Linked DNA regions of Homo sapiens. The protein of the gene in region 7 purifies or fractionates together with the protein of the main gene of each other region. This does not show direct contact. Each region holds a gene or a part of one and is shown on either strand. Other genes may lie near its edges. The genes, in order: CD44, NIPSNAP1, TUBB6, PRDX4, HADHA, NAP1L1 and PRKCZ.

Evidence for each region.
Region 1: the proteins of PRKCZ (region 7) and CD44 purify together in Homo sapiens (affinity purification with western blotting; 2 studies listed by BioGRID and IntAct, with this or other methods). This does not show direct contact.
Region 2: the proteins of PRKCZ (region 7) and NIPSNAP1 purify together in Homo sapiens (affinity purification with mass spectrometry; 2 studies listed by BioGRID and IntAct, with this or other methods). This does not show direct contact.
Region 3: the proteins of PRKCZ (region 7) and TUBB6 purify together in Homo sapiens (affinity purification with mass spectrometry; 2 studies listed by BioGRID and IntAct, with this or other methods). This does not show direct contact.
Region 4: the proteins of PRKCZ (region 7) and PRDX4 purify together in Homo sapiens (affinity purification with mass spectrometry; 2 studies listed by BioGRID and IntAct, with this or other methods). This does not show direct contact.
Region 5: the proteins of PRKCZ (region 7) and HADHA purify together in Homo sapiens (affinity purification with mass spectrometry; 2 studies listed by BioGRID and IntAct, with this or other methods). This does not show direct contact.
Region 6: the proteins of PRKCZ (region 7) and NAP1L1 purify together in Homo sapiens (affinity purification with mass spectrometry; 2 studies listed by BioGRID and IntAct, with this or other methods). This does not show direct contact.

Annotation. Positions count from the first base shown.
Region 1 is NC_000011.10:35,198,171-35,201,670, forward strand, and holds part of CD44 (CD44 antigen isoform 1 precursor), read left to right. Parts: coding exon 1-76; intron 77-2,475; coding exon of another isoform or gene 2,476-2,747; exon of another isoform or gene 2,748-2,911; coding exon 2,912-3,025; exon of another isoform or gene 3,026-3,497; coding exon of another isoform or gene 3,498-3,500. UniProt on the Homo sapiens protein: Cell-surface receptor that plays a role in cell-cell interactions, cell adhesion and migration, helping them to sense and respond to changes in the tissue microenvironment.
Region 2 is NC_000022.11:29,557,114-29,560,613, reverse strand, and holds part of NIPSNAP1 (protein NipSnap homolog 1), read left to right. Parts: intron 1-1,660; coding exon 1,661-1,744; intron 1,745-3,500.
Region 3 is NC_000018.10:12,311,241-12,314,740, reverse strand, and holds part of TUBB6 (tubulin beta-6 chain), read right to left. Parts: intron 1-3,500. UniProt on the Homo sapiens protein: Tubulin is the major constituent of microtubules, a cylinder consisting of laterally associated linear protofilaments composed of alpha- and beta-tubulin heterodimers.
Region 4 is NC_000023.11:23,670,493-23,673,992, forward strand, and holds part of PRDX4 (peroxiredoxin-4 precursor), read left to right. Parts: intron 1-1,036; coding exon 1,037-1,154; intron 1,155-3,500. UniProt on the Homo sapiens protein: Thiol-specific peroxidase that catalyzes the reduction of hydrogen peroxide and organic hydroperoxides to water and alcohols, respectively.
Region 5 is NC_000002.12:26,234,633-26,238,132, forward strand, and holds part of HADHA (trifunctional enzyme subunit alpha, mitochondrial precursor), read right to left. Parts: intron 2,357-3,500; coding exon 2,223-2,356; intron 1-2,222. UniProt on the Homo sapiens protein: Mitochondrial trifunctional enzyme catalyzes the last three of the four reactions of the mitochondrial beta-oxidation pathway.
Region 6 is NC_000012.12:76,057,186-76,060,685, forward strand, and holds part of NAP1L1 (nucleosome assembly protein 1-like 1), read right to left. Parts: intron 3,095-3,500; coding exon 2,953-3,094; intron 2,694-2,952; coding exon 2,613-2,693; intron 1-2,612. UniProt on the Homo sapiens protein: Histone chaperone that plays a role in the nuclear import of H2A-H2B and nucleosome assembly.
Region 7 is NC_000001.11:2,056,911-2,060,410, reverse strand, and holds part of PRKCZ (protein kinase C zeta type), read right to left. Parts: intron 871-3,500; coding exon 820-870; intron 1-819. UniProt on the Homo sapiens protein: Calcium- and diacylglycerol-independent serine/threonine-protein kinase that functions in phosphatidylinositol 3-kinase (PI3K) pathway and mitogen-activated protein (MAP) kinase cascade, and is involved in NF-kappa-B activation, mitogenic signaling, cell proliferation, cell polarity, inflammatory response and maintenance of long-term potentiation (LTP).

The DNA.
Region 1 (3,500 bases), on a different chromosome or scaffold from region 7:
GAAGATGAAAGAGACAGACACCTCAGTTTTTCTGGATCAGGCATTGATGATGATGAAGATTTTATCTCCAGCACCAGTAAGAATAATCAATTACAGTACAGCCATTTATGCAAGGCTTATTGATTAATCTGAGTGATACCAAATTGTATCTCTCTTGAGAAGTAGTTAATGTGAAAAATGGGTGAACCTATGATCATACCTTAGTTATATCTTGATGAGATTATGGAAGAAGAAATAGAATGTTTTGAGAAGTGGGGAAAATATCTCACAAAATTTCTCTTGTCTCATGTTCTTCCTGTTTTATTTATCTATGGGATCTACTGCTACAGATTGTCTTTGAATGATCAGGCTTTATCAGAGAATGACATTAAAACAGTACAAAAAATGTACATTGTGTACTTACTGTGCTAGGTGCTGGAAACACGAAGATGAAAAGAGCCAGAGCCTTTGCTTTTCAGAAGCTCATGGTCTGTTGGAGCAATAGACTTGAAGAATGTGATGAGGAGGGTATTAATTAAAAGTTGTAGGCCAGGCGTGGTGGCTCACACCTGTAATCCCAGCACCCTGGGAGGCCGAGGCGGGCAGATGACGAGGTCAGGAGATCGAGACCATCCTGGCTAACACAGTGAAACCCCATCTCTACTAAAAAATACAAAAAATTAACCAGGCGTAGTGGCGGGTGCCTGTAGTCCTAGCTATTCGGGAGGCTGAGGCAGGAGAATGGTGTGAACCCAGGAGGAGATCGCGCCACTGCACTCCAGCACTCTAACCTGGGTGACAGAGCCAGACTCCATCTCAAAAAAAAAAAAAAAAAGTTGTGGAAGTTCCTAAATTGAAGGCCCTAAAGGCTTAAATGATGGGAGCTAGAACTCAAGAATTATCTTAGTTAATCAAAGCCCAGCTGAGGTCAAAGGAACAAATCCAGAGTTTTAACAAATGAGCTGGACACCAATATAGCAGAAAGACCTTGAAGGGAAGGGCAAATGTCAGGTTAGCTTTAGCAAGACATTGCCACTTATTAAAAGCAAATAATGAAACCACTATTGGTACATAATAGTATCCAAATTTTTGACAATTATAAAACTTTTTGAGAACAAAGAGATGGAAATTGAGCTTTAAAGATATCCTTAAAAAGTTAAAAACATGCAAAGGTTGGTCTAATATTCTGCCAGATTACTGAGTTTTCCACACATACCTGTAATGACTTAAGATTTTGCTGAACAGAGCTGAGAATCCTGAACCTGACTCCATCACAGTTCTGCTTTTCCTTAGAAAAAAGGCTTTTGGGGTGCTGTGTGAGCTCTCCCAATTCACTGAAGTTCTATCCATTCCATTAAAATCTGAGAATTTCATCCTCAAATGGACAGAGAAGAAAGGGTCCAGAAAAAAAAATAGCTTAGGCCTTGAAGGCATCTGAGTATATAACATTGATATGACAAATACTCAAAAGGAACTAGAATTTTCTATCTAAACTTTTAAGTGATTTTTTTTTTAGACCCGACACCCCTCCAGAGCTTAATCTATGGAATAAGAAAATTCCTTTTGGTAACTTCAGAACAAAAACCAAATAATCAAAAACACTGGAGTTTTACATTATACTGTCTCCTGTGTTCAGCATGTGGCCCAGCTTTGCAGATGGGCCCATCAGTAAATACGTGGTCTTGATACTGAAGAAATTAAATTCCCTTGGGTGGTAACCCAAACAGATCTACCTGTAAATGAATTGTATGGTCAGGCTTCAGGGAAAAATTTCCCATGGTGTTGTTTTTTTTTTTTTTTTTTTTTTTTTTTAATTTTTTAAATCTCTATGGCATATTTTTCCAATTTCTGCTTTTCTTTTTTTTTCTTTTCTGCTTAGCACCTATGGACATAATTCAACATGATGCCCTCTTTCTTCTGGAGGGGTGTGATAACTGCTTGATAATAAGCACTTTTTCAGGCCTATTGAGAATGTGGTTAATGATTCTAAACTTGATTTTTCATAACTTGTAAAATAGAGCTGACAGTATTATAGTTCTGAAAACAGTTTTGCGTTATTTGGGTATCAAAATAAAGTTTGAAACAATTAGGATGGATTTGCAAATAACCTTTCACAAAACATGTTGACTCAGATTTTGTCATGATCCTTCTGTTAGGTGCATCTCTTATTCCAGCCCTAACAGATTGGGTGACAATATCAGGGTGCTGGTGGATGTACGCCTCTTTCTTTCCAGTGTGCTGCTATGATGGTGGCTGGTTACCTGTGGTGTCTTATTTTCTTTCACTGGCTATGAATGGCTTGCTCATGACATATTTTGTATTTGATGAGAATACCATAGTGTTTGATAAATATTCAGAAATGTATCGCTAAAACATATGGCTATTCTAGGTATTCTTTTTCAGAATCATCTATAGGAAAGCTCTAGCTGCTCAGGCATTCCTTTCCCCACTGAAATTACTAACAACATAAAGTGATTATCATGGTATAACTTTCAGTTATCTGCCTCTTCACCCGGAGGATCTACAAACAGCACACAGTGACTAAGTCCCTGGGCTTTCAAGTGCAGAGGGATACTACAGACTGCATGGATGGGCAAAATGGCGCCTTTGGTTATCCTCGGTGGAGGGCTGGTGTTTTCAAAGCTGTCCTTCCTACTGCTGCAGCTTCTTTGACTGTTTTATCTGGAAGATCTCATGTTCTGAACCCCAAGGTATTCTATGACAGAATGCAAAGGACACTGAGATGCTTACCAATATGGCTGAATTAAGCTGAAGTCACCCTCCGCTTTCCCTCCATTTCCATGCAGCCATCTATACAACCTGGTATAGATGATTCATTGCATAGCCTACAGAAGCAAGACTATGTGCGGGACAAGTGGCGAAGGCTCAAGAAATAACATTTTTCTAATTGCTTCAATCATCGTTATCACAGTTTCAACCACACCACGGGCTTTTGACCACACAAAACAGAACCAGGACTGGACCCAGTGGAACCCAAGCCATTCAAATCCGGAAGTGCTACTTCAGACAACCACAAGGATGACTGGTAATGGGTTCTGCATATTTAATGAAAGATTTTTTTCCCCTCAAAGCCCATGATGCTGCAAAGGTCAATCATCGAGGCACAGTGGGAAATTTAGTTAATATCTGATCAAGAAATTCTTAGTGGACTTTTATGAGGATACTTAATTCCATTTAGGAGTCATTTATCAATTATACCATGTGGGCACAGGATTTTTTATGTTGCTTCATGATAAAAATGAATATGTTTGAATGGTTTGTGGTTCTGCCTTTGACAAACTGATCATAGTGGAATAATAAGGGAACATGAAGAAATTCCAAGCCCATTGATTTTCTCTTGAGACCAATTAGGTAAAGTCACTCAAAATTTTTGAGAGTGGATGCTCAGAGGTAACACTTTGGCATAGAATTGTTAAATAGCATGCACTTTAATGGAAGAATAGAATCATTAAAGATTGGTTGATAACAAGTCACAGTGTATTTAACCATCATCACAGCAG
Region 2 (3,500 bases), on a different chromosome or scaffold from region 7:
CTTAGATGTAAAGTCACAAAAAGATCAATTTCAGATTACAAATAATATTTATAGAAAATAGGCAAGGAGTCTGGGAGCGGTGGCTCAAGTGTATAATCACGACACTTTGGGAGGCCGAGGTGGGCAAATCACAAGGTCAAGAGATCGAGACCATCCTGGCCAATATGGTGAAACCCCATCTCTACTAAAAATACAAAAATTAGCTGGGCGTGGTGGCGCATGCCTGTAGTCCCAGATACTCGGGAGGATGAGGCAGGAGAATCAGTTGAACCCGGGAGGTGGAGGTTGCAGTGAGCTGAGATCACGCCATTGCACTCCAGCCTGGCAACAGAGCGAGACTCCGTCTCAAAAAAAAAGAAGAAAAAAAAAAAAGGCAGGGAGAGATGATGGTGAAAAACATAGGGGATCTACATTGGTCTAGGTAGACAAATAATGCCTCTCTGAGGAAGTAAAATGTAAGCTGAGAGCTAAAGGATGAGAAGGAGCCAGCTGTGAATTGCTAGGCAAAAGCATTCCAAGTAGACAGAGCAGCACATGCAAAGGCCCTGTGGTGGGGAAAGGCCTTCGGGGTTTTGAGGTGTGGCAAGGAGGCCAGTGTGGAGTGAGTAGGGAAGAATGTGGGGAGATGGAACAGGAGAGGGGGAATGAGTTGGGATTTATTGTAAATGCAATGAGAGACTATTTGTTTCAAATAGCAGTGACACGACCTGATTTTTGTTCTAGTATGATTTCTCTGGCTGCTGTCTGCTTTGTTAAGAGTGCTTGGTAGGCGAGCAAGAGAGAAAGCAGGGCTTCAGGAAGCCATTACTCTAGTTCAGGCAGGAGGGGATGGGGCAGTGGGATGCTGAGAAGTCCACAGAAGATTTGTTAGTCTAGAGGTGGAACCAACAGGACTTGTGGATGAATTGTCTGTGTGGGGCAAGAGAAGGAGAAGGGCATTCCAGAAGAGCTCCCAGGCTCGTGCTTGAGCTGCTGTGTGTCATCTCCTGAGTCTGGGAGGTCTAGGGAAGGAGCAAGTCAGTGGGGTCAGGAGCGTAATTTTGGCCCTTGGAATTGTTACTTTTTTTTTTTTTCTTTGAGACACAGTCTTGCTCTGTCACCTAGGCTGGAGTGCAGTAGTGTGATCTCAGCTCACTGCAACCTCCGCTTCCCAAGTTCAAGTGATTCTCGTGCCTCACGCTCCTGAGTAGCTGGGATTACAGGCATGCAGTACCATGCCCAACTAATTTTTCTATTTTTAGTACAGAGTTTCGCTATGTTGGCCAGACTGGCCTCGAACTCCTGGCCTCAAGCAGTCCACCAGCCTCGGCCTCCCAAAGTGCTGGGATTATAGGCATGAGCCACCGCACCTAGCCGGAAGTGTTAACACTAAAAATGCTGACACACCAAAGTAGAGATGTCAAGTAGGCAGTAGATGGATATAGGAGTCTGGAGCCCTTGGGAGTGTTTGCGACTAGAAATATAAATGTAGGCAATATTAACATATGTACTGATTGGATGGATGATTAAAGCAGACAGTGTTTGCTAATAGTCTGAGGGAGGCATCTAGGGAGGAGGAGACAGCAGTGCAGGGTTTAGGGGACAGTGGGAAGAGGGCCCTGTGCTGGGTAAGGGATCCAGTCCTCTGTGCCTGAGGAATGAGCCTGTGCCTTTCTCACAGCCTATAAAGACCTGCAGTCTCGGGAGGAGACTCGAAACGCTGCCTGGAGGAAGAGAGGCTGGGATGAAAATGTCTACTATACAGGTGAGTGAAGCCTTTGGAGGTCTTCTGCTGAGAACCCTGTCTGAGGATGGAATCCTCTCTGCAAGGAGATCTAGTCTTTCTTGATTACCTCCAGTGATGGGGAACTCACTTTTAAGACAATGAGTTAATGGGTTTCTATCCAAGTGGCACACTCCATAGGATACCAGCAGGCCTAGGTGAGTACTCTAGGGGATGATAACATAGCCAGGGCCACGCCTCTGCCTAGGAGATGTGGATTAGCAAACGCCCATTGTGACCTTGGGCACGGTTCTTTACCTCGCTGAGGCTGTTCCCTCGTCTGTAAGATAGTGATGGTGATAGTGCTTCTGTCAGAGGGCTATAACGGAAGATTCTACAAACTATTTTATTATTTTATATTTTATTTTATTTTATTTATTTTTGAGACACAGTCTCACTCTGTCACCCAGGGTGGAGTGCAGTGGCATGATCTTGGCTCACTGTAGCCTCCGCCTCCCAGGTTCAAGCCATTCTCCTGCCTCAGCCTCCCGAGTAGCTGGGATTACAGGCGTGTGTCACCATGTCCAGCTAATTTTGTATTTTTAGTAGAGACGGGGTTTTATCATGTTGGCCAAGCTGGTCTCGAACTCCTGACCTCAGGTGATCCGCCTGCCTCGGCCTCCCAAAGTGCTGTGATTACAGGCATGAGCCACCACATCTGGCCCACAAACTCATTTATGAAAAGTGCTTTCTCCAGTGTCTGTCACAAAGGAAGCATGCAGGAAATGTTTTTGAATAAGGTTTTTGTTTTTGTAGAGATGCAGTCTTACTATGTCACCCAGGCAGGTCTCAAACTCCTGGGCTCAAGCAGTCCTCCCACCTCAGCCTTCCAAAGTGCTGGGATCATAGGCATGAGCTACTGTGCCCAGCCTTGAACAAGTTTTTTGCTCAAGGTGTTTGCCACTTTGCTAGGAACCTGAAACCACCTAGAGTCAGTGGGTGTTAATTAAGCCCTCACTGTGTGCCGGGAACTGTGGTAGGTAGGTGGTTGAGGGGCACATAAATGAACAAGAGCCTGTCCTTGCCATTGAGAAGTTTACAGTGATCACTTACCAGGTGGTATGAGGGAGAATGTGTCTGCTGAAGGAGTTAGCAGGAGCCTTGCTATTCAGTGTGGTCCCAGCTGGGTATGGTGGCTCACAACTGAAATCCTAGTACTTTGGGAGGCCAAGGCAAGAGGATCACTTGAGGTCAGTAGTTTAAGACCAGCCTGGGCAACATAGGGAGACCCCATCTCTACAAAACATTTTTTAAAAATTAGCAGGACGTGGTGTTTCCCATCTGTAGTCCCAGCTACTTGGAAGGCTGAGGTGGGAGGATCACTTGATCCCAGGAGTTTGAGGCTGCAGGGAGCCATGATTGTGCCATTGCACTCCAGCCTGGGCAACAGTGAGACCCTATCTCAAAAATAAAAAATAAAAATAATAAAAAACAAGACAAGCACAGTGGCTTACACCTGTAATCCCAGCACTATGAAGTTGAGGTATGTGGATCAATTGAGGCCAGGAGTTGGAGACCAGTCTCGGCAACATGGTGAAACCTCGTCTCTACTAAAAATAAAAAAAATTAGCCAGGCATGGTAACTCAAGCCTGTAATCCCAGCTACTCGGGAGGCTGAGGCACAAGAATCACTTGAACCCAGGAGGCGGAGGTTGCATTGAGCCGAGAACCTGCCACTGCACTCCAGCCTGGAAGACAGAGTGAGACCCTGTCTCAAAAAAAACAAAAAACAAAAAAA
Region 3 (3,500 bases), on a different chromosome or scaffold from region 7:
TGTAAACTGCTACATTTATGCCTGTCTTTTACTGTTGTTTCATATCCTTCTTTGAAGAAGGTATATATTTTACATATGTAAAACTTTAAGATCTTTTTTATCTATAAAAATTCACAGATATGCTTGTAACTGTTTCCCAATCTCAGGAAGGACTCCTGCGAGGGAGGCAGGCAGGGAGGGAGGTGGGTTTTCACTGTATGGCCTTTCCAGCTACGCACCATGTGCACACACTGCCTATCAAAGAAGAGGTGTGATTTCTAAAAGGTGTATTAGTTGGAAATACATGAATTGTGTCTGGTAAAGCTTACTGAGACTACGGTAGACTCAGCCAACTATAATTCAGACTCAAGAAATCTTAGCTGTCCGCTCGCTCAGATTCTCACCAAAAATCCACTGAACCTCAAGGAGAAGACTGGGCAGAATTCTACAACAAGTGGGGGAGATAGGGCCATTTCTTCTCGCAGATTCTTACAGGGGTCTGTGACCCCAAGATGCTTGGGGGGGGTCCTTCATTTCAGATAGTAAAATGAAGACCCCCAGAGAAGGGAACTGATGCTGCCAGCGGGCACAGAGCTAGGGTCAGCTGCTCAGTTTCCCTCTCCCGGTGCGGTGCTCTTTCTTCCTGGCTATGTTAACTCTGTGACCTGGGAATGTGGTCCAGAAAGAAGCTGTGGCTGCTGAGTCTATACCTACTTAGTAAGTGAGTTACTCAATGCTGATCTGTATAAAGTAGGATCGTCCTTTTTCCTTTCTCACAATACAGAATATTAATGTTATCCAAGTCAGGTCTTTATTACAGTACTCAGAGAGCAGTCCCTCTGAATTGACAAGGATGACACTGGGCAAGAGGAGCTCTCAGACACCCCCCGTGGGCATGCAAATGGATTCAGCTCTTCTGGAGGCCAATCTGCAATCTCTATGTGTGAGCATTTCTGCAGAACAGATTCCTTGAACTGGAACTCTTGGATGGAAATTATTGATTTGCTCAATCTACTAAGTAGTTCTCTGAACAGCTGTTATTTTCCCAAACACCTTCACCAACACTAGGTCTTAGCAGCTTCTGAAATACTGGCCAATCTGGTGGGAGAATATTTTGTTTTAATTCCCTCTTGCCTCTAGTTAGTAGTAAATTTTGTCCCCAGGTATTTATAGCTTTTATTACAGTTGTGAATAGGATGTGTTCCCCAGTGATTATTGCTTTTAATGTGATTCATCTGTTCCAGTTTGCCTGGGACCCTGGCAGTTTTAGCACTCAAAGTCTAGTGTCCTGGGGAACACCTCCCAGTTCCAGGCAAATCAGAAAGATTGGTAACCTGATCGCAAAACTATTAATTTCTGAATATTTTATCTTGTGTCTGGCTCCCTTACTGAAGTCTTGTAAGTGCTAGTCATTTTTCAGCTGATAGCCTATCTGGAAACTCCAAGAGAATCATTTCATCAACAAATAACACTTTTGTCTTTTCCTTTACATGATTTGCATTTTTTCTTTCTCTGGTTTTTGTGCACTGGCTAAAGCCTTCAGAACATGGAATAATTGTAGAGACAATGGACATCTGTTTCTTATACCTAATTCTGCTGGAAATGCTTCTGTTTCACCAGGGAGTGTAATGTTGCTATGGGTTTCTGGTAGATAATCTGTAAATAAAGGAAGTTTCTTTCTACTTCCAGCTTACATAGAAGTTTTTTTGTCCTCTACAAATCAGGAACACATCCAAAACTTTATCTTTTTTTTTTTTTTTTTGAGATAGAATTTCACTCTTGTTGCCCAGGCTGGAGTGCAATGGTGCGATCTTGGTTCACCCCAACCTCCGCCTGCTGGGTTCAAGTGATTCTCCTGCCTCAGCCTCCCGAGTAGCTGGGATTACAGGCATGTGCCACCACACTGGGCTAATTTTGTATTTTTAGTAGAGATGGGGTTTCTCCATGTTGGTCAGGCTGGTCTCAAACTCCCGACCTCAGGTGATCCGCCCGCCTTGGCCTCCCAAAGTGCTGGGATTACAGGCGTTAGCTACTGCTCCTGGCTTCCAAAACTTTAATCTTTTTTAAAAAATTGTTTCCTGCTGGGAGTCAGAAAAAAAACCCACTTTTTTGGGTCATCTATTAAGATGTTGTCTTTAATCTATTAGTAGACTTCTTAATGTTGAACCATCCTTGCATTCCTGGGATGTTGCTAGTATTTCTCAAACACTTATTTTGTACTAGACATTCTAAGTGTTTATTTAATCCTTACATCTCACTAAGAGGTAGACAGTCCCACTTGTGATGAGGAAATTAAGTCACAAGTAAGTTAAATAAGTCTAAGGCCACATAGTGAGTGGAAGGGCCAAAATTTAAACCCAGGGAGTCTGGCAGCACAGCCAGACTCCTAACCATTACACTGTCTGCCTCTCAGTCTTACTTGGTCACAATGTGCTATTAATATATTTTTTAAAAAACACAACTACATTTGATATTCTAAGTATTTTATTTTGGATTTTTGCATCTATATTTTTAAGTAAGTTTGATATACAGCTTTCACTTGTATGTTCTAGTAGAAGCTACCTAGCCTCATAGGAAATGTTGGGAAGTTTTCCATCATTTTCTCTCTGGAATGGTTTGGATAATGGGATTGTCTGTTACCCTCTATTAAACTATCTCTTCCTGGTGCCTTTTGAGAAAGGGGTTAGAATGTAGATTTTTCATGATGTATTTGATTCCTACACCATAGTGCTTTTAAGCCAGAATCAGTCTTCAAATTCTTCACATTTTCTTGGAAGACACTGCTTTTCACAGGTATTGGAAATATGTTTGATTGAGTGAGGAATTTTTTTTTTTAGCAATAATGTCAATAGATATGTGGTCTCTAACATTAAAATAGGTGGGAAACTTCCAAATCTGCCACCTATCCTGTAGGTTCTACTTGATAACACTAATGGTACCACTTCATGTAATTTTATATAATTTTCTTCAGAAGTCTGCAGAAAGATATGTTTTACTATCATTTTTTAGGTGGAAGAAGCAAGAAAAAAAGGATTTACCTAATTCTGATAAAACCAATATAGGAACCAAAAACAAATGGCAAAATAACTTTATAATGATGGGGAAAAAGAAGCTAATGTCTAAAATTGTTTCTTGGTTTTTGTTTTTTTGTTTTTTGCTATTTTTGAGATGGAGTCTCGCTCTGTCACCCAGGTTGGAGTGCAGTAGTGCAATCTCAGCTCACTGCAACCTCTACCTCCCGGGTTCCAGCGATTCTCCTGCCTCAGCCTCCCGAGTAGCTGGGACTACAGGCACGTGCCACCATGCCCGGCTAATTTTTTGTATTTTTAGTAGAGACAGGGTTTCACCGTGTCAGCCAGGATGGTCTTGATCTCCTGACCTCGTGATCCGCTCGTCTTGGCCTCCCAAAGTGGTGGGATTACAGGCATGAGCCACCGCGCCTGGCTTGATTTTTGTTTTTTAATCAAGAACTACCAGTAGAAGAATTTCATTTAGAGATATAGAGGTTCCTTCCCACCAAA
Region 4 (3,500 bases), on a different chromosome or scaffold from region 7:
CCATAAATGGTGGCTGTTACAGAGAAGTATAAGCCTTACTTTCTAGGACCCTTAGCCAAACTTAGAAGCAAGCATTGACTTCAGTGTTTGTAAGGGGTCTGAAAGTATAAGTGCTATCTGAATGTGTTAACAGAGCATGAAGGTGCATTAGTATCTAAGTGTGTTGGCTAAAATTACTGTACGCCCTTACAAGAGAGCAGCATGAACTGTTCAGTTTCCATTGGGTCACTTGAAACCTGTTCAAGGGAGTCTTCTTTCAAAGCCCTCTAGGAAAATGATCCCATGGTCTGGGATTTTACACTTCTGGCCTGACATATTTGTACATTCCCTCCTCATTTTGTGTAGCCTCATCTGCAGCAGGTCCTCCATGTGTATGTCAGAAGCTGGACAAACTAGTACATCTGGAAGACTGCCATTAGAGAAAGGAAAATCTAATTATTTGAAATGTAGGAAGTTGACAACTTGAAGCGGGACTATAGTGAAGTATCCAGGAGGGTTTAGTGCAGGGTAGAATTTAAGGGGTCTGTGAGCATGAATAGGGGAAAAAAGTATTTATTTTCACTAATCCCCATCTGAAATTTAGTGTTTCCTTCTATTATGAATGTCAGCAACAAACTACACTATCTTCAGCAGCACTTGCTTGTACCTTTCACCAATAGAATCACTTATTTTCTTGCTACATATGGTTATCGCAGGTATCCTGAAACACCATTTTCACTCATCATTATCTTACGTAGTTGTCAGATTACAACTAGATCTTGCAGTTTTGAAGTGTTATAGAGCACATGTATTATGATATCACCAATTTTTTTTAATATTTTTATAATTGCATTTAAATACAATTGGTTTCTTTTGTAATTCTATGTATTTTCCTTTTTGCATTCAATAACACTCTTTTAAGAAGTCTGTAAGCTTCACCAGACTGCCAAAGAGATCTAAAGGTAGCCCTGATTTTTAGTGATTTTCTAAAGATGTCCTTCTACCATTCCACCAACTTTCTCAGTGTTACAGAACATCATGTATTTTATTTTCTTAGTTTCCAAGCCAGCGCCCTACTGGGAAGGAACAGCTGTGATCGATGGAGAATTTAAGGAGCTGAAGTTAACTGATTATCGTGGGAAATACTTGGTTTTCTTCTTCTACCCACTTGATTTGTAAGTAATACATGTAAATAGCTAGTAAAATCTCAGTCTTTATCAATTATTTTTCAGGAGTATCAAACAAATTATTTTGTTCAGCTCTTGGTTTTTAAAAAGGCAAGCTGAAGTAAAGAAATGTATTTAAAAAGGTAACATCTACCATATATTTCAGAGTCATAACACACCGACCTCAATACTTATGTCTACATGATTATGTTATAATGGAATAATTAGAGGAAAGCTACAATATATTCATTAAGCTATACCTACTAAGGCAAGAAAATGGACTGATAATATATTAGAAAGCATTTAATAGCAAGACCTATGCCATAATTCTTTTTACTGTATCTCTCTTGATTAGAAAATTAATTCTGTAATCCCAGCACTTTGGGAGGCCAAGGCAGGTGGATTACAAGGTCAAGAGATCGAGACCATCCTGGCCAACATGGTAAAACCCCATCTCTACTAAAAATGCAAAAATTAGCTGGGCGTGGTGGTACGCGCCTGTAGTCCCAGCTACTCGGGAGGCTGAGGCAGGAGAATTGCTTGAACCCTGGAGGCGGAGGTTGCAGTAAGCTGAGATAGTGCCACTGCACTCCAGCCTGGCGACAGCGAGACTCCATCTCAAAAAGAAAAGAAAAAGAAAATTAAGCCATTTTCTCTAGTGATACCATGTAACTGTGGTTTTTCCATTTTTATTCTTTGCTGCATCTGTTGCTTTTCTGGGATTTGAACATTTTGCTGAAAATATTATATACTGCTTAAGGAATAAGGAATAACACCTGTGTATATGTTATGGTTATTGTGGGGTTTCTCGTCTTTTTTTAACTCTGTGACAGTGAGCGTTTTTGTATATGGTCAGAAAGTTGACTAAAAGTAAATACCCTTACAGCTTTATTCACGTTGAGGATTTAATTTTATTTTACAAAACACTATTTTGAGTGTTTTTCAAAATTCATGAAAGTGAGAAGAGACCAAAAAGAGTTATGTCAATTTTTATCTTTTATTCTCTTGGAACTTACTTTTTGGTTACAACAAATAACTAGAAGTTTCCTCCTCTATCTTTGCCACTGTGCCTTTTTCCATTAGGACTAATCTGGAACTACATAGATCAAATTTAAACTTGCAGGGAGGGTATACTTAAGCTCATTGCTATAGGTTGTTTCTAGGCCAGGGATTAACAAATTTTTTCTGCTGGATTTGGCCTATTGACCTATTTGCCAACCCCTGCTCTAAGCCACAAAGGAAGAATTCTCATGAAAATTATTACATTGAGACTAAAGTTATGAGTCTGCATAATATATAATCTTTTAAATTATAAGAACTTGCTTCTTTCTAATCAACTCATATTGTGACTTGATTTTTTTAAGTATAGCTTAATTTCTAATAGAAACCAGAAGTAGAAATTTCAGTAGACATAAAAAATGACAGGCCTTCTAAATTCATGTTGTTATAAAACCAGAAGGTTAACATGTATGTTAAATATATACGACTAACACCCTGAATTTGGAAGTTAGTCTAATGTAGCAGAAAAATATGTTCTGTGTTTCTCCATTGTTATTCATAACTCCATAATGGGTAAGAGATAGTTAATTGGAGCATGTTGTTAGCAATGGTCTTCTGGGACAAGGAGCTAAGATAGCCTCTTCCTGTTTTCATGTAATGCTGGACTGTGCCTGGTTAGAGAAGGAAGAATTCTGGGGCATTTGCCACAGTCTACAAGGAGGAAAGTTACAAACGTAACCCTTCAGTTTCCTGCCAAAACTTTTTCTGTCTTCACTAAGAAGTTGGTCAAATGTATCTCTAGGTAGCATTCCTTGAAATAAGAAGAAAGGCAGAGGCTGGGTGCAGTGGCTCACGCCTGTAATCCCAGCACTTTGGGAGGCCAACATGGGCGGATCACCTGAGGTCAGGAGTTCTAGACCAGCCTGGCCAACAAGGTGAAACCCCGTCTCTACTGAAAATACAAACAAAATTACCCGGGCGTGGTGGTGGGCGTTTGTAGTCCCAGTTACTCAGCAGGCTGAGGCAGGAGAATTGCTTGAACCCGGGAGGCGGAGGTTGCAGTGAGCTGAGATCGCGCCACTGCACTCCAGCCTGGGTGACAGAGTGAGACCCTGCCACAAAAAAAAAAAAAAAGGAAGGCTGAGGCTGACCATTCCTACCCTTTAGAAAATATTAAAAATACATTTTATAGCCCAGGTTTCCAGGGACATCATCCGAGATTAGAACTGTCTACTTGGACATGACAGTGCTGTACCTGAATACCTGAAACATGTTAAAATCCTGTATTGGTATCTGGTAGGAACTTGTGCCCTAACTAAGTCTATGTTTTTCAAACTTTCTTGACCATGTCTCACA
Region 5 (3,500 bases), on a different chromosome or scaffold from region 7:
GCGGGCGCCTGTAGTCCCAGCTACTTGGGAGGCTGAGGCAGGAGAACAGTGTGAAACCGGGAGGTGGAGCTTGCAGTGAGCCGAGATCGCGCCACTGCACTCCAGCCTGGGCGACAGAGTGAGACTCTGTCTCAAAAAAAAAAAAAAAAATTCTGGATCCAGAAAACATAAATGTGTTGCATAATTTATTTTTACTTCTGTAATAAATCATTAAATTACAAAGCTTGGTACAAGGGAAAATCATCTTTGGTAAATTACTTCACTATCAGATTAAACATTTCACTATCAGGTAGTTAACAGCAATAAAAATGACGCAAAAGAAAAGCTTCCAGGTTGTTTAGAGAAATCTAAAACATTTTAACAGATCCCACTAATGAATAAAAATGACCAGGTAGGCCAGGCATGGTGGCTCATGCCTGTAATCCCAGCACTTTGAGAGGCCAAGGCAGGTGGATCACCTGAGGTCAGGAGTTCGAGACCAGGCTGGTCAACATGGTGAAACCGCGTCTCTACTAAAAATACAAAAATTAGCTGGGCGTGGTGCTGCATTCCTGTAGTCCTGGCTACTCGGGAGGCTGAGGCGAGAGAATCACTGGAACCTGGGAGGTGGAGGTTGCAGTGGGCCGAGATCGCACCACTGTACTCCAGCCTGGACAGCAGAGGGAGACTCCGTCTCAAAAATAAATAAGTAAATAAAAATGATCAGGTGCAATGATGTTCCACTCAATGTCCTTTAATTTCAGTTTGTTTCATTTGCTATTTTGTGAACACACTTAGGATATGGATTTTGTACTTTTGACCAAGGATAACTAGTATATTCTGTAATTTTATACACTGAGAGTTGCTCAGCTGGCCTCATAGAAGCTACATGTATTTTCCTCTGGATATAGGTAGCTACTGCCAGGTACATCAGTGTCTTGTTAGACTTTATAAATGTTCTGTTTAATGTTAATTTTTTAGAAGACCCAAAATTATCTTATCAAGTGGTTTTTCTTCTAGCTGAATTATTTGTGCCTAACAAGAGACTGATTACTACACATAAATAATTACACTTTCAGTACAAATTACTAAACCTACAATGCTGGCTATCATTGTCTAAAATACAAAGAACATAACAAATACCCATATTTTAATGGAATTGACAACTTAACATTTTAACCTATTAAACTGACACTAAAATATCATTTCCCCTCCTTATGTATGTGTAAACAATTGTAAATAAGTTAATGTAGGCATGCATTCCACCATTTAGCAGAGGAAAAGAAAATACTAGCTGCATCTGTAAAGCTGCCTTTAACAATCAAGTCCTACCACCCACTTCATTTCCCCAAAGCAGCCATCTTCATGTTTGTAGTGTCTCCTTCCAGACCAACTACGATTGTGTCCATAAATAGTATCAAGAATTATTCCATGTTTGGTTTTAAAACATTTATAGAAACTATATACTGTATGAAACATTCTGCAATTTGCTTTTCTTTTAACTTAACCTTATGTTTTTGAGTTCTAACATCATATTGTGGATCTAGTTAATTCCTTTTACCTGTTTTGTAGTATTCTATTGTGTGAATAGTCCACATTTTACTTACCCATTTTCCTACTGACTGACATTTGGTTTTAAATTCTTCATTATTTCACACTACACAGGACCAAACATCCTTGTACACTGGTTCTTATAAACAAGGGGTGAGATTTCTCTAGATCACATGATGTGTGTGTGTGTGTGTGTGTATATATATATATATATACTCTGTGTGTGTGTGTGTGTGTGTGTGTGTGTGTGTGTGTGTGTATATACTTTTTTTTTTTAAGACAGTCTCACTCTGTCACCCAGGCTGGAGTGCAGTGGTGTGATCTCGGCTCACTGCAACCTCTGCCTCCCAGGTTCAAGGGATTTTCGTGCCACAGCCTCCTGAGTAGCTGAGATTACAAGCGTGTGCCACCATGCCTAATTTTTGTATTTTTAGTGGAGACAGGGTTTCACCATGTTGGCCAGGCTGGTCTTGAGCTCTTGGCCTCATGTGATCCACCTGCCTCGGCCTCCCAAAGTGCTGGGATTACAGGCAAGAACCACCACACCCAGCCTGATACGTACATTTTCAATTTTACAGGCCTGTGTCACTGTGCCCAGCACTTCTACTTTCTTTTAAAAGGAGAAATTATTAGGCCTAAGAAACACACTATTAACCAAGATAAAAGGTGACTTCAAGTTTCCTAAAACTTACTTGATATCAGCACCTGCAATAAAGCAGCCTGGCTTTGATGAGATAAGGACGGCACTTCTGATTTGATCACTAGCCCAGATTTCATTCATAACTTCTGAGAACTCTGAATGTAGCTCTTTACTCAGTGTATTTACCTGCCAAAGGGAAATATATACAGGTAAGGGTTTAAATTTGAAGCACTGGATGTACGTACCACCATCAAATGCTATTTTGATTATAAGAAATATACTTATCCGGCAGAAATATACTGTTAGAAGAGAGTAAGAAATATCATTCTCCCAGCAAGTCAGTAGCTTTCTATTCAGGCAGCTTTGGCCCACTACAAGCACCCCTTCCTTTAAAAATAGGTCTTCTCAAAGGAGAAACTCAGGGTCATCCTCAGAGTTTGAATCATATGTAGGCTATAAACAAATAGGTCTACAAACATTTATTGGCATGGAAAAAATCTGCATAATGTTAAGAAAAAAATGAAATACAAATAAGACATATAGGCCAGGCATGGTGGCTCATCCCTGTAATCCCTGCACTTTGGGAGGCCAAGGTGGGCGGATCACTTGAGTTCAGGAGTTCGAGACCAGCCTGGGCAACATAATGGAACCTTGCCTCTACAGAAAATACAAAAATTAGCCGGGCCTGACAGCACACGCCTATAGTCCCAGCTACTCAGGAGGCTTAGGTGGGAGGATCACCTGAGCCTGGGGAGGCTGAAGCTGCACTAACCTGTGACTGTGCCACTGCACTCCAGCCTAGGCAACAGAATGAGACCCTATCTTCAAAAAAAACCATATAGTATGATCTTAGTTTTGTAAATATTATTCATTGAAACTGAATTAAATGTGATTATCCCATGGAAGATACCAAGAAAAAGATGTGGTTATCTTTAGGTTTGAATTATGAATGTTTATTATTTTCTTCTTTATAATTTTTTATAGTTGAAAAATTTTCTACCATTGACATATATTACTTTTGTGTTCAGGAAAAATGTCCAACCTAAGAAAATTCTGAAAAAATATCTTAAGCTTGAATCATTGGTTAGTGAGTGCTAAAATTTACTCTAGTAAAGGGGAATGGCTCTTATTTACCTTAATTTGTGATAGTTGTCAACTGCTTCCATCTAGGTCTTATTACATCTAAGCCTCTGGCTATAAGTTTGTTGTTGTTGTTTTTTAGAGAGACAAGGTCTTGCTCTGTGGCCCAGGCTGGAGTGCAGTGGTGCAATCATAGCTCACTGTAACCTTGAATTCCTAGGCTTAAGTGATCTTTCCACCTCAGCCTTCA
Region 6 (3,500 bases), on a different chromosome or scaffold from region 7:
GGGAGGCTGAGGTGGGAGAATAGCTTGGGCCCAGGAATGAGCTGCAGTGAGCCAAGATCATGCCAGTGTACTCCAGCCTGGGCAACACAGCAAGTCCCTGTCTCTTAAACAAAAAAACTATAAAATGTAAGGAAATAATGACTTTTTGAGTACAGATGGTGGTGCCAGGTTGAATAACAGTTCATCTGCATTATCATTCTTACAAAAAGGAAAAATATTTCCTAGGTATAAAAATACAACTGATGCTCTAGGGAGGCCCTGGCCGGGGAAACGAGTTGCATTTGTCGGCTCAGCTGGCAACAGTGGCGGGAGCAGAGCTGGCGGGGCCTGTGCAACTGCCTGGGTTTGTGAAATGGCTGCTGACGTTTCCGATTCCAATAGGGCTGACTGCAAAGGAGACCCAAGGAACAGAGCCAAGTTAGATGCTGATTACCTACTTTGAGTCCTTTATTGTGGAGTCTGTTCATTACCAATAGAGTACTGTGAATATATGCCTGATGTTGCTAAATGTAGACAATGATTAGAGAAGAATTTTCCAAATGAATATGCAAAACTTACTGTGGAAAATTCACCCAAACAAGAAGCTGGAATCTGTCAAGGTCAAGGAACAGCAGGGGAAGAAGAGGAGAAGAAAAAACAGAAGAGAGGTGGAAGGGGTCAAATAAAACAAAAAAACAAAGACGGTACCACAAAAGGTTACTATAGCCAAAATTCCCAGAGCAAAGAAATATGTGACAAGGGTTGTGGCCTTGTAACTTTTGAAATTGATCTTAAATCACACAAAGATTTTTTGCTCAAAAATTCTCCTGTGGTGCCTCAGTAACAGAGGAGGATGAAATTATCATTCAAGGAGACTTTACAGATGACATAATTGAGGTCATTCAGGAAAAACAGACAGAAGTAGATGATGACAGCATCGAAGATCTTGGAGAAGAAGTGAATTTGAAAATTTGTCTGTAGTTAATGGCCTGAACTGACAGTAGATATGGCCAAAGGGAGAGAGGCCTACATATATATATATATATATATATATATATATGTATTCTACAGTAAAACTGTAGACTGCCTTCGTTCTTGGCATTTTCCCTGTTCTGTACAAGGCTGCTTATTTTTTTATTGCCAAAGTCAAATAAACAGGAGAGACTGTCATGCTCATACATGAACAGAATTTAGTCAAATAAAAAATTTTGGTTATTTGGTACTTTTTTTTTTTTTTTTTGAGACGGAGTCTCACACTGTCGCCTGGGCTGGAGCGCAGTGGTGCGATCTCGGCTCACTGCAACCTCGACTTCCCGAGTTCAAGTGATTCTCCTGCCTGAGCCTCCCGAGTAGGTGGGATTAGAGGCACCCGCCTCCACACCCAGCTAATATTTTGTATTTTTAGTAGAGATGGGATTTCACCATGTTGGCCAGGCTGGTCTCGAACTCCTGACCTAGTGATTGGCCCACCTAGGCCTCCCAAAGTGCTGGGATTACAGGCATGAGCCACTGCGCCTGGCCTTTCTCTTTCTCTCTTTTTATTTTTTGAAAAACCCGGTAGACTTTGCGGTGACCATTTTTGTTGATTATTTTACTGATCTAAAGCTGAGTGATTTTTTAAAAGAATTTGAATTTGGCTTCCTCACCAATAATATGTCTCCTTGCTTCTCTGATGTGATAGTTTTGAGATGGGTGAGAATCTAATATATCTGTGGTTGAATTTGCTTTGCTGTTATCAAGTCCACCCTATGGGCACAATAACATACTGTTGGTAGGAGTTGTTGGAGCTATTCTGGAGATTATTTGGTAAAGTATACTAAAAGCCTTAAAACCACGTATGTGCACTGTTTGAACCAGTAAGCCACTTCTTTGAAATTAGAAGACATTAGAAGAAACAATAAGCCTTGCAATAAAACTTATGGATGAAAGTATTCATCACAATATGATTTATAATAAAAAATTGCAAATGTTATAAGTGAACAATTGGAAAATGGTTAAGGAAGTGATGGTGCACTGTGTGGTATGTTTATGTTTAAAGATGTGGTATGCATATGTTTAAAGAATCATATTTTCTAAGATTATTTGGAAACATGTTTGGTAATGTCAAGTGGGGGCACCCCAGATACATTTTAGACATTTAATCATCATCGTTCTGAGAGGAAGGCCATTCAGAGATGCTAGAGGTTCTTATTCTGGATATAAATTACATGAGTAAAATTCTACTAACCAATTAAAAATAATGTACAACCATGTTCAATATACAGTCCTGGAAATAGCAATTATGTCTTTTCACAAGAGAAAATGACAGTTTTAATGCTCCATCAGATGAATTCGAACTTTAAGTCAGGTGCTGCAAATTGGAAATAAGACTTGTGGTGTTTTAAACTGCTGTGGACACTTAAGAAACTTAGAACCCATGAAACCGCTGCTTATTGCCATGCAAATTACAATCTTGAATGACTGTTTTTTAAAAATAAAGTAATAGAAAAACGTGTAATAAAGACGTAAAATTAAAAAATGAAAAAATACAACTGGTTATATAATATTGTACTCCATCATTAAATGCTAACATTTCTGACAAGTCCTAAGATTTTATCATCTTAAAAACATACCAAAATAAAGTTGGTACTAACCGAAATCTCATCTTCTTCATCTGGTTTCCATTCACATTCTTCTTCCGTAGGTTCATAAATTGCATTAATAATTTCAAATCGCTAAAATGATTTAAAAAAAAAAGGCTGTATAAAAACACTGGCATCCAAGCTAAAACCAGTGGTTTCTCACTAAGAAGTCTTACAAATTTAACAAATGCATACCACAACTTTAACTGCTATTATTGATAGTTCCTCCAAGTGCTGCCTCTAATAACAATTTCAATGAGAGTTCTAAAGATTAACCTCTTCCAAGTCTGCTTATGTTTCTAGAATTCGTCTTCTAGAATGTTAAATTAAACAAAGTAGGAGAAAGCATTACCTTATCAAATAGAGGCTGATAGAGAACAGCATACTTCCTTTCAAGATCGTGAACTTCCTCATAGAATTTGGCTTCTATCTGTGCACATTTAACTTGCAGGTTTTTGAGAGCATTCACTCGTCTTTTAACTACCCTAGGCAGGCTGAAAGGTTAGAAATCAGTTATATAGCATCAGAGTAAAATGGAAGTCACACTTCTTTTGTCATACTGAAACTGAAGCATTGGAGTTAGTGAATGACAGGTTTTTTATCTGAAGCAAAAGGTAGATTCAAAGTAAATAAAAATCAAATAGATATAAATACATTGATCCACTGGCTATATTTCAAAAGTAGAAATGTAACTGGGTAAATTGATAAACAAAATGTAAATCATATTGTCAACCCTAAATCTTTACCCAAGTTAAGTGTTGGACTTGTCATTGCTGAAGTCATGGACAGACCATCTTAATTCTGAGAACAATGATTACTTGGATTTTTCTTTTACATATATCTCACCCATACAAGTTATTAGGAAAAAGGAGGGGAGCATAGACATATCAGGAAAAAGGA
Region 7 (3,500 bases):
CTCTTGGCCTGAATCTGCTCCCACCCCCAGTTCCCGCCCAACACAGGGCACTGCCAACACCCAGCATCCAGCCTGAGGCCAGCGAGGTGTGTGCCCTGGCAGCAGGGGTGGGGGAAGCCCTGCCTGAAGGGCACTGAGCCACGTGCCCTGCGCTGGACAGGCAGCGGCCTCGGTCCAGGAGCTCCTGCCCACACAACGAACAAGGCATGGCACGGATGCTGGAGGCCGTGTGGGGTCTGGAGAGTGGGGGTGGAACCCCACCAAGCACAGCCATGGGATGCGCGGCCCGAGAGCAGCGTAGCCACCTGCTCAGGGCCCAACAGTCTCCGGGATGCAGTAGGAAGTGAGGTCAGAAGCTTCCCTCTGAAGCCACAGCCCCCGGGACTCACTCTCCTTCCTCTCCCAACAATGGAGCCAGTGTGGGATGAACGGAGCCCCCACACCAGCTCAGGGGCCAGCAGGGACCAGGAGGAGCAGACGACTGGCCTAGGGGTGGTCGTGAGCTGAGGCAGCCACAAAGGAGCAGTGTCCAGCCTCCCACCTGGCCCCTCCCTCCTAGGGAGACGGCAGGGCACCCCTGGACTTCTCATGCTACCAACCAGCCAAGCGAGTCCCCCGCCATGTGGTGCTGTCAGCCAGAACACGCACAGGCAGCAGCTGCAGTGAAAACCCCACCTGCGGTCACCACGGCTGCTCCTGCCCTGACGCTCCACGAGGGTGAACCTCCGAAAACGGCACCACTGCCACCTCCGTGGCACAACGGATCAACAGTTCAACCCCGTAACATGCGAGACCGGCGTAGGAAACCCCAGTACTCACTGTCTTCTCCCGGACATGGCAGGCCAGGCTGCTCAGGGGTGCTCGGGAAAACTGGACAAGAGAGAGAAAGAGACAGCGTCAAGACCCTGCGGCTGCCACTCAACAGTCTCACGGAGGAAGTCCCGCCTCAGTCAGGCTGAGCACGTGGACTTCACGCAAGGCGCACGTGGCACTGCCAATGAGAGCCCGCTCCTGGGAGACGCAAAACCCCGTGCGTCTACGTAGGCCAGGCTCCGACTTTAAAACCCACGGAAAAACTTAGAGTAAAAGGCAATCAGAGGGACCTGGACAGCAAAGCCATCAGAGGAAGCTACTGATTTGTATTTTTAAACTATATAAAAATGGGAAAGAAATGCAATTACTTTGAACACTGACTTTTAAAAGCACTTTAGATTCCACTTCTTCATACTCAAGACAGAGTTCAAAATTATTTTAACATATATCCTGGGCTTCCACAATAAATTATTAAAATAGGTGCTTAGAAAGTATTAAAACTTGGCTGGACATGATGGCTCACGCCTGCAATCCCAGCACTTTGGGAGGCCGAGATGAGAGGATGGCTTCAGGCCAGGAGTTCAAGACCAGCCTGGCCAACATGACGAAACCCCATCTCTACTTTTTTATGTGTGTGTGTATACACATAAAAGTATTGAAACTTTAAAAAAACAAACATTTTTTGTTTTTTGTTGGTTTTTTTCAGATGGAGTCTCACTCTGTGCCCAGGCTGGAGCTCAGTGGCACAATCTCAGCTCACTGCAACCTCCACCTCTCGGGTTCCAGCAGTTCTCCTGCCTCAGCCTCCCAAGTAGCTGGGATTACAAGTGTACACCACCACGCCCGGCTAATTTTTGTATTTATAGTAGAGATGGGGTTTCACCATGTTGGTCAGGCTGGTCTTGAACTCCTGACCTCAAGTGATCCACCTGCCTCGGCCTCCCAAAGTGCTGGGATTACAAGTGTGTGCCACTGAACCCAGCCCTATTTTTCTTTTATCTAGAAAACAATGTGAATTTTTAAGCCACTGTATCTTTCCACATAGAGAGGCAAAATGTGCTTACTATCACAACCACAATAAAAAGGACTAGATTAGGCACATCTATGAATTTATTTATCTGACACAGGGTTTCGCCCCATCACTCAGGCTAGAGTGCAGTGGAATAATCACAGTTCACTGTAGCCTCTACCTCCTGTGCTCAAGGAATCCTCCCACCTCAGCCTCCCGAGTAACTGGGACTACAGGTGCACCACCACGTCTGAATATCAAAAAAAAAAAAAAAAAAAAAAATTGGGGCCGGGCACCGTGGCTCACGCCTGTAATCCCAACACTTCAGGAAGCTGAGGCAGGCAGATCACCTAAGGTCAGGAGTTTGAGAACAGCCTGGCCAACATGGCGAGACCCCATCTCTACTAAAAATACAAAAATTAGGCCGGGCACCGTGGCTCACGCCTGTAATCCCAGCACTTTGGGAGGCTGAGGCGGGTGGATCACGAGGTCAGGAGATCGAGACCATCTTGGCTAACATGGTGAAACTCCGTCTCTACTAAAAATACAAAACATTAGCCAGGCGTGATGACACATGCCTGTAGTCCCAGCTACTTGGGAGGGTGAGGCAGAAGAATTGCTTGAACCCGGGAGGCGGAGGTTGCATTGAGCTGAGATCGCGTCACTGCACTCCAGCCTGGGCGACAGAGCGAGACTCCAACTAAAAAAAAAAAAAAATTAGCCAAGTGTGGTGGCACATGCCTGTAGTCCCAGCTACTCGGGAGGCTGAGGCAGGACAATCGCTTATATCTGGGAGGTGGAGGTTGCAGTGAACAGAGATAGTGCCACTGCACTCCAGCCTGGGGACAGAGCCAGACTCTGTCTCAAAAAAATAAAACAAGTTTTGGAGAGGGGGGGGTCTCACTATGTTGCCCAGGTTGGTCTTGAACTCCTAGGCTGAAGCGATCCTCCCACCTTGACCTCCCAAAGTGCTGGGATTACAGTTGTGAGCCACCGCACCCGGCCTAGTCTTTAAATTTAGAGCCTCATTGATATAAAGGGCGAAGAAAATTAAGTGTTGTAACCAGGTAGCCCGGTGTCCAGGAGAATGATGGATCTGTCAGAAATCCATGGGTGGTTTCGAGCTTTGGTCCCATCTTGGACTCAATCGTCCATGGCCAGACGCCTGGCAAGGAGCCCAAGCTACGCCAGAAGTGGACACAGAGACAAAGACGTGACCGGCTGGCCACAGCGCTGGAACCACATTCCCAGGCCCCAGACGCCCTGCAGACCCCCAGCAGTACCGGGGAGGAGCCCACGCCCACCTAAAGACAAAGTGGAAATGATCACAATCACATCTCCCATGCGTCAGCTCATCATGGGGCTTTGAACTTAAAGCTGAGGACAGCTGTGAGCCTGGAGCCGGGCCTAGGGAGCACCGGGCAGGTGAGGTGGCTGGTGGGGCTGTCCCCTCTGTCCACATGCGCCGCGGGCCCTACGCTGGCCACTGGAGCCTCTGAGTGGTTTACGGGTTCTTTGTTAAGAGCAGTTTTCATTTGGGTTAATAAAATGTCAAAGAAAAGGCCGGGCGCGGTGGCTCACATCTGTAATCCCAGCACTTTGGGAGGCTGAGGCAGGCAGATCACGAGGTCAGGAGACTGAGACCATCCTGGCTAACACGGTGAAACCCCGTCTCTAC